Homo sapiens: one gene and its partners. The protein of the gene in region 1 purifies or fractionates together with the protein of each later gene. This does not show direct contact. Each region holds a gene or a part of one and is shown in the gene's direction. Other genes may lie near its edges. The genes, in order: PLOD3, VIPAS39 and COL18A1.

Evidence for each region.
Region 2: the proteins of PLOD3 (region 1) and VIPAS39 purify together in Homo sapiens (co-immunoprecipitation; 2 studies listed by BioGRID and IntAct, with this or other methods). This does not show direct contact.
Region 3: the proteins of PLOD3 (region 1) and COL18A1 purify together in Homo sapiens (co-immunoprecipitation; 2 studies listed by BioGRID and IntAct, with this or other methods). This does not show direct contact.

The regions. Positions count from the first base shown.
Region 1 is NC_000007.14:101,207,517-101,211,164, reverse strand, and holds part of PLOD3 (multifunctional procollagen lysine hydroxylase and glycosyltransferase LH3 precursor), read left to right. Parts: intron 1-491; coding exon 492-633; intron 634-720; coding exon 721-834; intron 835-1,003; coding exon 1,004-1,072; intron 1,073-2,207; coding exon 2,208-2,312; intron 2,313-3,440; coding exon 3,441-3,587; intron 3,588-3,648. UniProt on the Homo sapiens protein: Multifunctional enzyme that catalyzes a series of essential post-translational modifications on Lys residues in procollagen. Plays a redundant role in catalyzing the formation of hydroxylysine residues in -Xaa-Lys-Gly- sequences in collagens.
Region 2 is NC_000014.9:77,426,577-77,430,224, reverse strand, and holds the end of VIPAS39 (spermatogenesis-defective protein 39 homolog), read left to right. Parts: intron 1-55; coding exon of another isoform or gene 56-106; exon of another isoform or gene 107-135; intron 136-457; coding exon 458-544; intron 545-1,129; coding exon 1,130-1,219; intron 1,220-1,750; coding exon 1,751-1,855; intron 1,856-2,588; coding exon 2,589-2,609; 3' UTR 2,610-3,550; downstream 3,551-3,648.
Region 3 is NC_000021.9:45,506,146-45,509,793, forward strand, and holds part of COL18A1 (collagen alpha-1(XVIII) chain isoform 4 preproprotein), read left to right. Parts: intron 1-1,415; coding exon 1,416-1,448; intron 1,449-3,210; coding exon 3,211-3,456; intron 3,457-3,648. UniProt on the Homo sapiens protein: Probably plays a major role in determining the retinal structure as well as in the closure of the neural tube.

The DNA.
Region 1 (3,648 bases):
TGACGCCTGTAATCCCAGCACTTTGGAAGGCAGAGGCAGGTGGATTACTCGAGGTCAGGAGTTCGAGACCAGCCTGGCCAACATGGTGAAACCCCATCTCTACCAAAAATACAAAAATCAGCCGGGCATGGTGGCTGGCACCTCTAATCCCAGCTATTTGGGAGGCTAAGGTGGGAGAATTGCTTGAACCTGGGAGGTGGAGGTTGCAGTGAGCCAAGATCACACCACTGCATTCCAGCCTGGGTGACAGAGCAAGACTCCGTCTCAAAAACCAAAAACAAGAAACAAAAAAGAAGTGCCACAGCTTGGGGTAGGAACTGACCGCATTTTGGGAGGTGGGGTGGTTGGGACCAGCAGTGCTTGACAAGGGACATGCAGGGGCCTTATGTTCAGGGACTGGGATACCCTGAGGGAAGAAGGACTTCCCGGGATGAGCTGGGCAGAATTTGGGGGGCTGTCCTCCCAGCTGACCGCGGTGTCGGTGCCTCCAGGGGTGTGTGGAATGTACCATACATCTCCCAGGCCTATGTGATCCGGGGTGATACCCTGCGGATGGAGCTGCCCCAGAGGGATGTGTTCTCGGGCAGTGACACAGACCCGGACATGGCCTTCTGTAAGAGCTTTCGAGACAAGGTGAGCGCGGGTGCACGGTCTGGCCTGGGGGCAGTCCCCCAGACTCCAGGCATCGCCTGCATCACGGACACCCCCACCCCACTACAGGGCATCTTCCTCCATCTGAGCAATCAGCATGAATTTGGCCGGCTCCTGGCCACTTCCAGATACGACACGGAGCACCTGCACCCCGACCTCTGGCAGATCTTCGACAACCCCGTCGTGAGTGGGGACCCCACGCCCAGAGCACACAGGTTCCCCGCCTTGTGCTAAGGAAGACACCAAACGTGATGGCTGCTGCCAGCGCAGGACACTGAGTGGGAGGGGGCGGTCCCCTGGGGGCTGGGAGCGAGGGGGGCACAGATCTGATGTGCCCCCCACCCTCTCACAGGACTGGAAGGAGCAGTACATCCACGAGAACTACAGCCGGGCCCTGGAAGGGGAAGGAATCGTGGAGCAGGTGAGCCCACGCAGCCTCCCCACCCACCCCCTGCCCTCATGGCCATCGCCTCTTGGGGGCCCCCGCCTGGATTCAAAGTTTTCACACTGAGTTCCCCAGAGATCTGAGGGTTTTCTGTTCAGACAAGATGAAGGCAGAGGCCGAACAGAAAGGACTCTTGCCCCCAAAGCCAGCATTGATCAGACAGCCTCTTCTCCTGTATATTGGGTATACTGGTGTTATGCTTGAAATCACATCTTAAAAGAAGAATGGGGCTGGGCTCAGTGGCTCATGCCTGTAATCCCAGCACTTTGGGAGGCCAAGGTGGGTGGATCGGTTGAGGCCAGAAGTCCAAGACCAGCCTGGGCAACATAGCGAGAATCTGTCTCTACAACAACAACAAAAAAATTAAATAAGAAATGAGGCCAGGAGTGGTGCTCATGCTTGTAATCCCAGTACATTGAGAGGCCGAGGCAGGCAGATCACCTGAGGTCAGGAGTTCGAGACCAGCCTGGCCAACATGGCAAATCCTGTCTCTACCAAAAAAAAAAAAAAAAAAAACACAAAAATTAGTCAGGTGTGATGGCGTGCACCTGTAGTCCCAGCTACTCGGGAGGCTGAGGTGGGAGAATCGCTTGAACCTGGGAGGCAGAGGTTGCAGTGAGCCAAGATCACGCCACTGCACTCCACCTTGGGTGACACAGCGAGACCCTGTCTCAAAAAAAAAAGAAAAGAAAAAATTAGCTTGGCATGGTGGCATGTGCCTGTAGTTCCAGCTACTTGGGAGTCTGAGGCGGGAGGATCGCTTGAGCCCAGAAGGTCGAGGCTGTAGTGAGCTATGATTGTGCCACTGCACTCCAGCCTGGTTGACAGAGCAATACCCTATCTCAAAAAAAAAAAAAAGAGGTATGCACTGTTACGGAAGTTTGGAAACCACTGTCCCAGCACGAGGGGCTCCAGGACCCTCTGCCACCTCTCCTGTGCCAGAAACCGGTCCTCAGCCTTGCCACTCCCTCAGCCCCTACCTGGCGGGTCCCCGGCTGCTCTCACAAAGCCTTCCCTGCTCCTCCCTGCCCCTTCCCATTCTGCCTGCTGCCTGTCCCCTTCCCCGTTCTGCGGCGTCAGCTAGCCCTGTTCTCCCTCGCCCCATCCTCAGCCATGCCCGGACGTGTACTGGTTCCCACTGCTGTCAGAACAAATGTGTGATGAGCTGGTGGCAGAGATGGAGCACTACGGCCAGTGGTCAGGCGGCCGGCATGAGGTAAGGGCCTGGGCGAGGAGGGCAGAGGCCTTCCCAGAGGAGGAGGTGCAGGATCTGGTAAACAAACAATGGAATCAGGAAAATGGGAGCAAAGAGGGGTTCCCAGGGGGGAGGCAGACCCTGGGGTCACAACTGCATTCATTCATGTATTCAAGAAATATTTACTGCTGGGCACAGTGGCTCATGCCTGTAATCCTAGCACTTTGGGAGGCTGAGGCGGGAGGATTGCTCGAGCAGGGGGAGTTTGAGGCCAGCCTGGGCAACATAGCGAGACCCTGTCTCTACAAAAAATTTAAAAATTAGCCGAGTTTGGGCCAGGTGCGGTGGCTCACGCCTGTAATCCCAGCACTTTGGGAGGCCGAGGCAGGTGGATCACCTGGGGTCAGGAGTTCGAGACCAGCCTGACCAACATGGAGAAACCCCATCTCTACTAAAAACACAAAATTAGCCGGGCATGGTGGCGGGCGCCTGTAGTCCCAGCTACTCGGGAGCTGAGGTAGAATTGCTTGAACCCGGGAGGCAGAGGTTGCAGTGAGCCAAGATTGAACTCCAGGCTGGGCAACAAGAGTGAAACTCCATCTCAGAAAAACCAACAAATTAGCCGGGCATGGTGGCATGTCCCAGCTATTCAGGAGGCTGAGGCAGAAGGATCACTTGAGCCCCAGAGTTAGAGGCTGCAGTGAGCTATGATCATGCCGCAGTACTCCAGCCTGGGTGACAGAGCAAGACTCTGTCTCTAAAAAAAGAGAAAAGGAAATCATTCCTGGGCCACTGTCCTAGACTGCACTGCAGGAATGCCTCATGCCGGTCGAGCTCTGCCCTGCTGTGAGCAGCAGCCACCACACAGCTTCTAAGGCTGCGATGAGCAGCCTGGGTGCAATAGAAGCCACGGGGAAGCCTTGACCCAGACTTGGGAGGAGTAGGGAGCTTCACAGGACAGGTGACATCTTAGCTGAGACTTGAAGGGCCGGGAGCAGTGAGTCAGGCCGAGAAGTAGCAAAGAAGACTGTTCTGCACAGAGGAACACAGGTGTGAAGGCTGGAGGACGGGAGGAAGGAGGCTGGACTGCCCTGGGGTGGGGAGCGCCATGGCTGGAGGGGCGGGTGGCTCAGTGCCCGCCGCCCCCAGGATTCAAGGCTGGCTGGAGGCTACGAGAATGTGCCCACCGTGGACATCCACATGAAGCAGGTGGGGTACGAGGACCAGTGGCTGCAGCTGCTGCGGACGTATGTGGGCCCCATGACCGAGAGCCTGTTTCCCGGTTACCACACCAAGGTGCGCTGCCCACCTGCCAGCTGCCTCCCCACCTTCCCCACCCCAGTCCCGGACAGGAAGT
Region 2 (3,648 bases), on another chromosome or scaffold:
GAGTGAAGTTCCTTTTTCATTTTCTACCTACTCCTATCTCACCCCCTTTCTCAAGGCAAACACTGTTAAAAGTTTAATGGGTAGCTTTCCAGACCTTCCCTCATGAATTTGCAAATAAACATCTGTACTTACAAAGATATGGAAGATGGAATTATTTTCTACATTGATAAGTTCATACTACAAATATTAAGTAAGTTACTTATCCCATTTAGTAGTATTTCAAGACTTTTCCCTGCATTCGTTTCTATAGATCTAAGAAGTTATTTCAAACCTGATTCATTTCCACTCTCTCAAATCCCTTGATTTTTCTGAAAAATTCATTTCTCATTATTTCTGTATCCCTCAGCACCCCCACTCACCCACCACATTATTCTGGTCTGATCGTAAAACATAGACTAACCTAGAATGTGTTGAGTGTGCCTGGCCTACCTGCCGCTACCCCATCTTCCTCTTTCAGAACTGGCTGGGCTATACCAAGAAGAGAGCACCCATTGGCTTCCATCGGGTTGTCGAAATTTTGCACAAGAACAATGCCCCTGTGCAGGTAATGGGTCCTGAAGAGAGTTGGGTACAGGATATTCTTGGAGACCTAACTTTAAGCCTCTTACTGGTCAGTGATGGGAGACCCGATCTGCTCTTGTTTTCCCTTAAAGGCAGCACAATGGCTGCAATAGGCCTCAAGACAGAAAAGGCCAGGGAGTGAAATTCTCTCCCTTTCTCCCCTTTAGAAACAATTCCAAACTGTCCTCTCTGAGTAGCATCTACTGTGTTAGCCCAAGTGGAATACTGATGTACTGTTCAAATGATAGAAAAGGAGAACTCGTGGAGAAAAGACATCAGGGAGAAATGAGCAGAGCACTGGATCACAGCTAGAGCACTCATTGCTGGCATGTGTATCTGGCTCGAGGATCAGGAGAAGTGTGCTCTTTCCTGCTTACTGAGGCAGCATGGAAGTACTGTGTAGCGTTACCTCATTCCCATTGCAGAACTAGTCCTGTGGTTGATGATGGAAACTGGAAACATTAGCTATTGAACTCTTTTGCCTTCTTCAGGACTTTCTTTTCTACCTTGTAGAGCTCTGTGCCTTATGGGTGTTTGAATCATTAATCGGAAGTACCTCTTCCCACAGATATTACAGGAGTATGTCAATCTGGTGGAAGATGTGGACACGAAGTTGAACTTAGCCACTAAGTTCAAGTGCCATGATGTCGTCATTGATGTGAGTCCCCAAGAAATGGGAGTCCTCCGTTAGATCCTCAGTGGCGAAGCAGGGTGGGGATTATAATATTCTCTGTCCAAGATCCTGAGGTGCTCCCACCAGGTTTGACTGAATGGACAGAATAATCTGGCAAGAGTTTGTTTGGAGACCAGCACTCCTGTATTATTTTCCCAGCCCTCTGACTGCTTTCTCTGTGTTTTTATAAACTTGTCGTACTTGGAGAATTCATAGAACTAAATCAAGCTATACAAGCTGTGTAGTCTTCTCTCCAACATGGAGTTCTGTGGGCACTGGACCCCACTGTTATCCCACTATAGCCTCTTAGCCTCTCCTTGAGCGTTGGGTCAAAGTGATAATGACAAAAAGAAATAAGCCCTCATGTGTACACAGTAGCACACACCAGTAGTTCCAGCTACTCAGGAGCCTAAGGAGAGAGGATTGCTTGAGCCCAGGAGTTTGAGACCATCCTGGGCAAAAAGAACCCTGTACAGAGGCTGATTGGAGGTTTGTATTGTTTGTTTTGATGCACAGACCTACCGGGACCTGAAGGATCGTCAACAGTTGCTAGCATACAGGAGTAAGGTAGATAAAGGATCAGCAGAGGAGGAGAAGATTGATGCTCTTCTCAGCAGCTCGGTGAGCAGCTACAGTTCACCCCTCCAGCAGGCTCAGGAGACAGACAGTTCACAAAATAGTACCAAATGTATGTTCCCAAGGTCTGGAAGGATTGCAGTTGGCTAAGCCACATGGATGTAAGGCTCTCCTCTGGCCACAATGTCAAAAGCACTGCTTTGAATAGCAGAAATTACTCCTGAGATGCGGTATGATAGGGGGGTAATCTGGGGACCTCAAGCTAAGACTTAACTGTAATGCTGTGATAATAGTTAAACCTAGCATGTAGGAGAAACTAAATATTGAAAGTATGAAAACATGTTACAGATTCAGAATATCCAAACTGTATGGTCTCGTGGGGATGGATGGGACCTACCAGTTGAAAATAAGAAGTGGGTGAAATAGATGTTAGCTACCTGGGGAGCACAGCTGGTTCGTCTCTCACAGCAGGAAATTACTGAGCTCTTTGTTAATATGAAAGTTAGTTCCCTGTTAGGTATTTTGGAACCTACCTTAGGGTCAAATGACCAAAATTAGGCTTGTAAAATACAAAATAGGTGTTTAATGCATCTTTGAATAAATGAACTCCCCCATATATTTTAAAAAATTTCTCAACATCCCCCACCTCCTGATCTGATTCTACTTTTTCTTTTCCTTACATTATCTAGCTGAGCCTTGTTTTGTTGCATTTTCTCTGCCTTGCTGTAGGGATAAGTGAAAACTGATCACACACTTTCATTGTTTCCTCTTTCCACAGCAAATTCGATGGAAGAATTAAGTGGCATTGACTACCTTGAAGCCTGCCTCATTTCCTCCTCTCCTGCCTGTGAAAGCAGAGAGAGCTCTTCTTTGGGAGAGCTGCGGCATCACATCGCTTGGGCCCATTACCCATGGGCAGTGCCAGCTACTCTTGACACAGATAACTTCAGACTGATCTTCTGTCCAAGGAACATCATCTGAGGATCGAGATCTAAAGCTTTGAGTCATGAGAATGATTCTCTCCACCTGGTGCTCATATGAAGGTGGGAGTGATTTCTAGATTGGGCCCCTACTGGGTAAGATCTCACTTGGTCTGAGAAAAGTGACTGCTCCAGAAAGGAAGAGGTATGGGAGTCATAGGGTGGCTACTGCATTCCACTCAGCTAATTATGATCCAGGACTTGGCGCTGGACATTGGCAGTTCTGCTCTGAATGAAGTCAGAACAGAACCAAAATGGCCTCAGGAAGGAATGCCAGTGTTTCCCAAGACCTCCTGGAGATGCACTCACACCAGACTGCACAGACCCCTCCACATTATGCCACACATGGCCTAGACGTTGTGTTTCCTCAGCCATTTTCCCTCTGCTGCCCCAGTTTACTCTGTCCAAAACCCTAAGGTTCTTCTCTCACTTGAACACAGACGACCTTGCTTGGGTGATGAGACATCCCCTTTATCTCTTCCTCTACTGCTGGCCAAGACCCGTCACTTTATAAGAAGCTCAGATGCAGCAGTGCTGGAGAGCTCTCTCTTTATGCAAAAATCTCATTTCACCAGGAGCTTTCAGAAGTTTCACCTGGGCTAAATTCAGCAGCATTTCTGTTAGGATATTTAGATGGAGGTTTTATTTTCACACTTGGATTCTTGCTCTGTACCAATATTTGCCTCCTTTTCTGTGACTGAACTGGGTTTTTCTGACATGCCTAGACTCCTAATAAAGGTATTTCTTCCTTGGTGCCTTCTCTCCCGCTCCTGGTGGTTTTGTGTAGAATGATGAAATAATTGCTCAGGATCTTAGGATCATTACAAGTCTTCCTCAGTGACTGCATTTAGCAGCCTG
Region 3 (3,648 bases), on another chromosome or scaffold:
TTTAAAGAAAAGTGAGCTCAAGCTTCTGAAAGTGGATGAACACATGGCGTGTGAGGGGCTCCTGGTGGGTCATGTCACAGTGAACGTTTACAAAGATAAATGTCACCTCACACACCCGATAATAAGACAAGGCGCCTGACGGGACGAGGCGGCAGGGGGGCTCAGGCCCTCCAGGGCCACGTGACGTCCACAGCACGGCCCCGGCTGGGGGGCAGGCTGTCCCGTGGCTCTGCACCCCGCGTTATAAACACCAAGGTGGGATGAAATGCATCCTCTCTGCTTAGCACGGGCCTTGCTCACCAGCCTGGCTCCTCAGACACACCTGGGATTGCCCCTTCCAGGACAGGCCAGCCCCTTTCCTGCTTTCCCAAAATGGTCTGGGTGGCAGGAGTGGCCGCTCTGATCCAGGTGGGTGCGGCCATGCTTGCAGGGCCCCGGGAAGGTTTACCTTCGTGTGGCAAAGGTGAGGACGGGTAGAAGCCCCATGCCGCCGAAACGGCCTGTGACATCCGTGGGAGCCTCCATGGCAGAACACTGCACACTGACACAGCCCTGACTCCTGGAGCCCTCCCACCTTCCAACACACCCACCTTCCTTCTAGAGCCCTCCCACCTTCCCTCTGGAACCCTCCCACCTTCCCTCTGGAGCCCTCCCACCTTCCCTCTAGCACTCCCTCCCTCTCGCCACCGGCCCCCTCCTAGGCCTGGCCAGCCCCTGCAGCACCCCAGACAGTGAATCCCACTCCAGTCCCTTCATCTGGCCAGGGAGAGGCTGCCAGTCTCATAGCAGATGCTGAGCTGGTGCCCACTGTGTGCCAGGTGTGCTTGTAGGCACCCGGATGCAGCCCCATCCTAACTTTCAGGGGCTTTGGTCCTGACAGGAGGAGGCAGGGGATGGCATCCTAGCAAACGCGTGCTGGGAGGGCTGGGTGCTGGGCAGGGAGGGCAACCTGCCGTGGACTGGGAGGGCTGGGTGCTGGGCAGGGAGGGCACCCTCCTGTGGGCTGGGAGGGCCGGGTGTTGGGGAGGGAGAGGCGGGTGCTGGGCAGGGAGGGCACCCTCCTGTGGGCTGGGAGGGCCGGGTGTTGGGGAGGGAGAGGTGGGTGCTGGGCAGGGAGGGCAACCTGCTGTGGACTGGGAGGGCCGGGTGCTGGGCAGGGAGGGCACCCTCCTGTGGGCTGGCAGGGCCGGGTGCTGGGCAGGGAGGGCACCCTGCTGTGGACTGGGAGGGCCGGGTGCTGGGCAGGGAGCGTACCCTGGCACAGGCTTGGAGGGGCAGGTGCTGGGCAGGGAGGGCACCCTCCTGTGGGCTGGGAGGGCCAGGTGCTGGGGCGGGAGAGTCGGGTGCTGGGCAGGGAGGGCACCCTGGCTCAGGCCCAGCCGCAGGTCCTGGGTGACCCTGCTGCTTTCTTCCAGCTGGAGGCCCGGACACCACTCCCACGAGGGACGGTAAGGAGCCTTTTTTCTGTTGAGACTGGTGGGTGGTCAGGACATGAGGGGGTATGTGCTGTCCCCTGTTTGAGGAACAACACGTGGTCCTTTGGAGTCCTGGAGCTGAACATGTGGCTCACCATCAGCCCCTGCTGCAGAAACTGGTGCAGGACACCCCACTACCTCTGTCTCAGCGCTGGCCCCCCAGTACCTCCGTCTCAGCTGCTGGCCTCACGAGGGAGCCCCTCTCATCCCTCAACTTTCCCAGTTGTGTCTGCCGCTCATTGCCCTCCTCAAGGTCAAAATCCTTGGGGCCAAAATCCACATCTTGTGTCTTTGCCTTCCCTCACCCAAAGTGCCAGACACAAGAATGGATATCTCTAAGAGTGGTGGGTGACTGGGTGGGTGAATCAATGGGGAGGTGGATGGATGGATGGGTGGATGGAGAGGTGGGTGAGTGGATACGTAGGTAGATGGGGAGGTGGATGGATGAGTAGATGGTGGACAGGTGGGTGAGTGGATGGATGGTGGTCAGGCGGGTGAGTGGACGGGTGGGTGGGTGGATGGAAAGGTGGGTGAGTGGATAGGTAGGTAGCTGGGGAGATGGATGGATGGTGGACAGGTGGGTGAGTGTATGAATGGGTGGGTGGATAGTGGGTAAGTGGGTGAGTGGATGGTGGACAGGTGGGTGAGTGGATGGGTAGGTAGATGGGGAGGTGGATGGGTGGTTGCTGGACAGGTGGGTGAGTGGATAGATGGGCAGATGGATGGTGGACAAGTGGGTGAGTGGATGGGTGGATGGATGGTGGGCAGATGGATGGTGGATAGGTAGATGAGTGGATGAATGGGTGGATGGATGGTGGGTAAGTGGGTGAGTGGATGGGTGGATGGACAGGTGGGTGAGTGGATGGGTGGGTGGATGGATGGTGGGTAAGTGGGTTAGTGGATGGGTGGGTGGATGGATGGGTAGAAATATTTTCGTTTTCCTAAGTGTTGCGTCCAGCTGCTGTCGGCCCCTCCTTGAGTAGAGGTCATGATTCCTTAATTGGCTCAGGAGTGAGGCCTGATGTGGAGCAGTGTCAGGGGCTCCACAGCGGCCTGTCTCCTCACAGGGTTCAGCCCAGTCTGCTCTCACTCATTTGCTGATTCATTCTTTCATTCAGCCAGTCAATAGTCATGGCCCCTCCTGTGTGCCGGGTGGCCATGGATATTGCCCTGGGTAACACACAGCCTGGCCCTGTGGAGCAGACAGTGGGGACAGCCATGTGGACAGGGTGCAGGTGGATGGCAATGGCAGCTGGGTCAGGAGGGGCTGAGGGCCGTGGGGAAAGGTGCAGAATCAATAGGGGCATCCGGACTGGGGTGCAGGCCTGGGGGCTGGGATTTCTAGGGTGGAGGTCACCTCTGAGGGAGACAGAGCAAGGCCCTGGGAGATTAGAAGGTCGAAGGTCGCCGTGTTGAGGTCAGGGGCCCTGAATTGGAGCCGCGGCAAAGGAGAGGGCAGGTCAGGGCACGTGGTGAGTGATTGCTGCGGCTTCTGAGCACGGCTGGGTCTGTGGGGCCTGAGCAGAGGTGACCCGCGATCCGGCGCCACGGCAGGCAGGACTCCCCACCCTTGCTGCTGCCTACACCCCCAGGGCAGCCCCAGAGTCGGGGGCGCAGCTCCCTGCTTGCCAGTTCAGAGCCCAGCCCCTCTCACCCAGCCCAGAGGAGGACACAGATGGAGGAGGGGCACCCGGAGGGTCCCCCCGCCGACAGGCCCCACGTCTCCCACCTGCAGGACAATGAAGTGGCCGCCTTGCAGCCCCCCGTGGTGCAGCTGCACGACAGCAACCCCTACCCGCGGCGGGAGCACCCCCACCCCACCGCGCGGCCCTGGCGGGCAGATGACATCCTGGCCAGCCCCCCTCGCCTGCCCGAGCCCCAGCCCTACCCCGGAGCCCCGCACCACAGCTCCTACGTGCACCTGCGGCCGGCGCGACCCACAAGCCCACCCGCCCACAGCCACCGCGACTTCCAGCCGGTGGTGAGTGCCCCCCCAAAGTGGGCTTGGCTCCATCTAGCCCCTCGGCTCTCGGCAGCAGAAGAGGGCCCAGCCCCTGCAGAGCTGCTGGGGGTCCCAGGCTTCGGCCATGGGTGGGGGTCTGGCGGCTCAGGGCCACTCAGGGCGGCTTGGCTGGCCCTGGGACTTGCCCTCTGGTGGCCAAGCAGTGGTCAT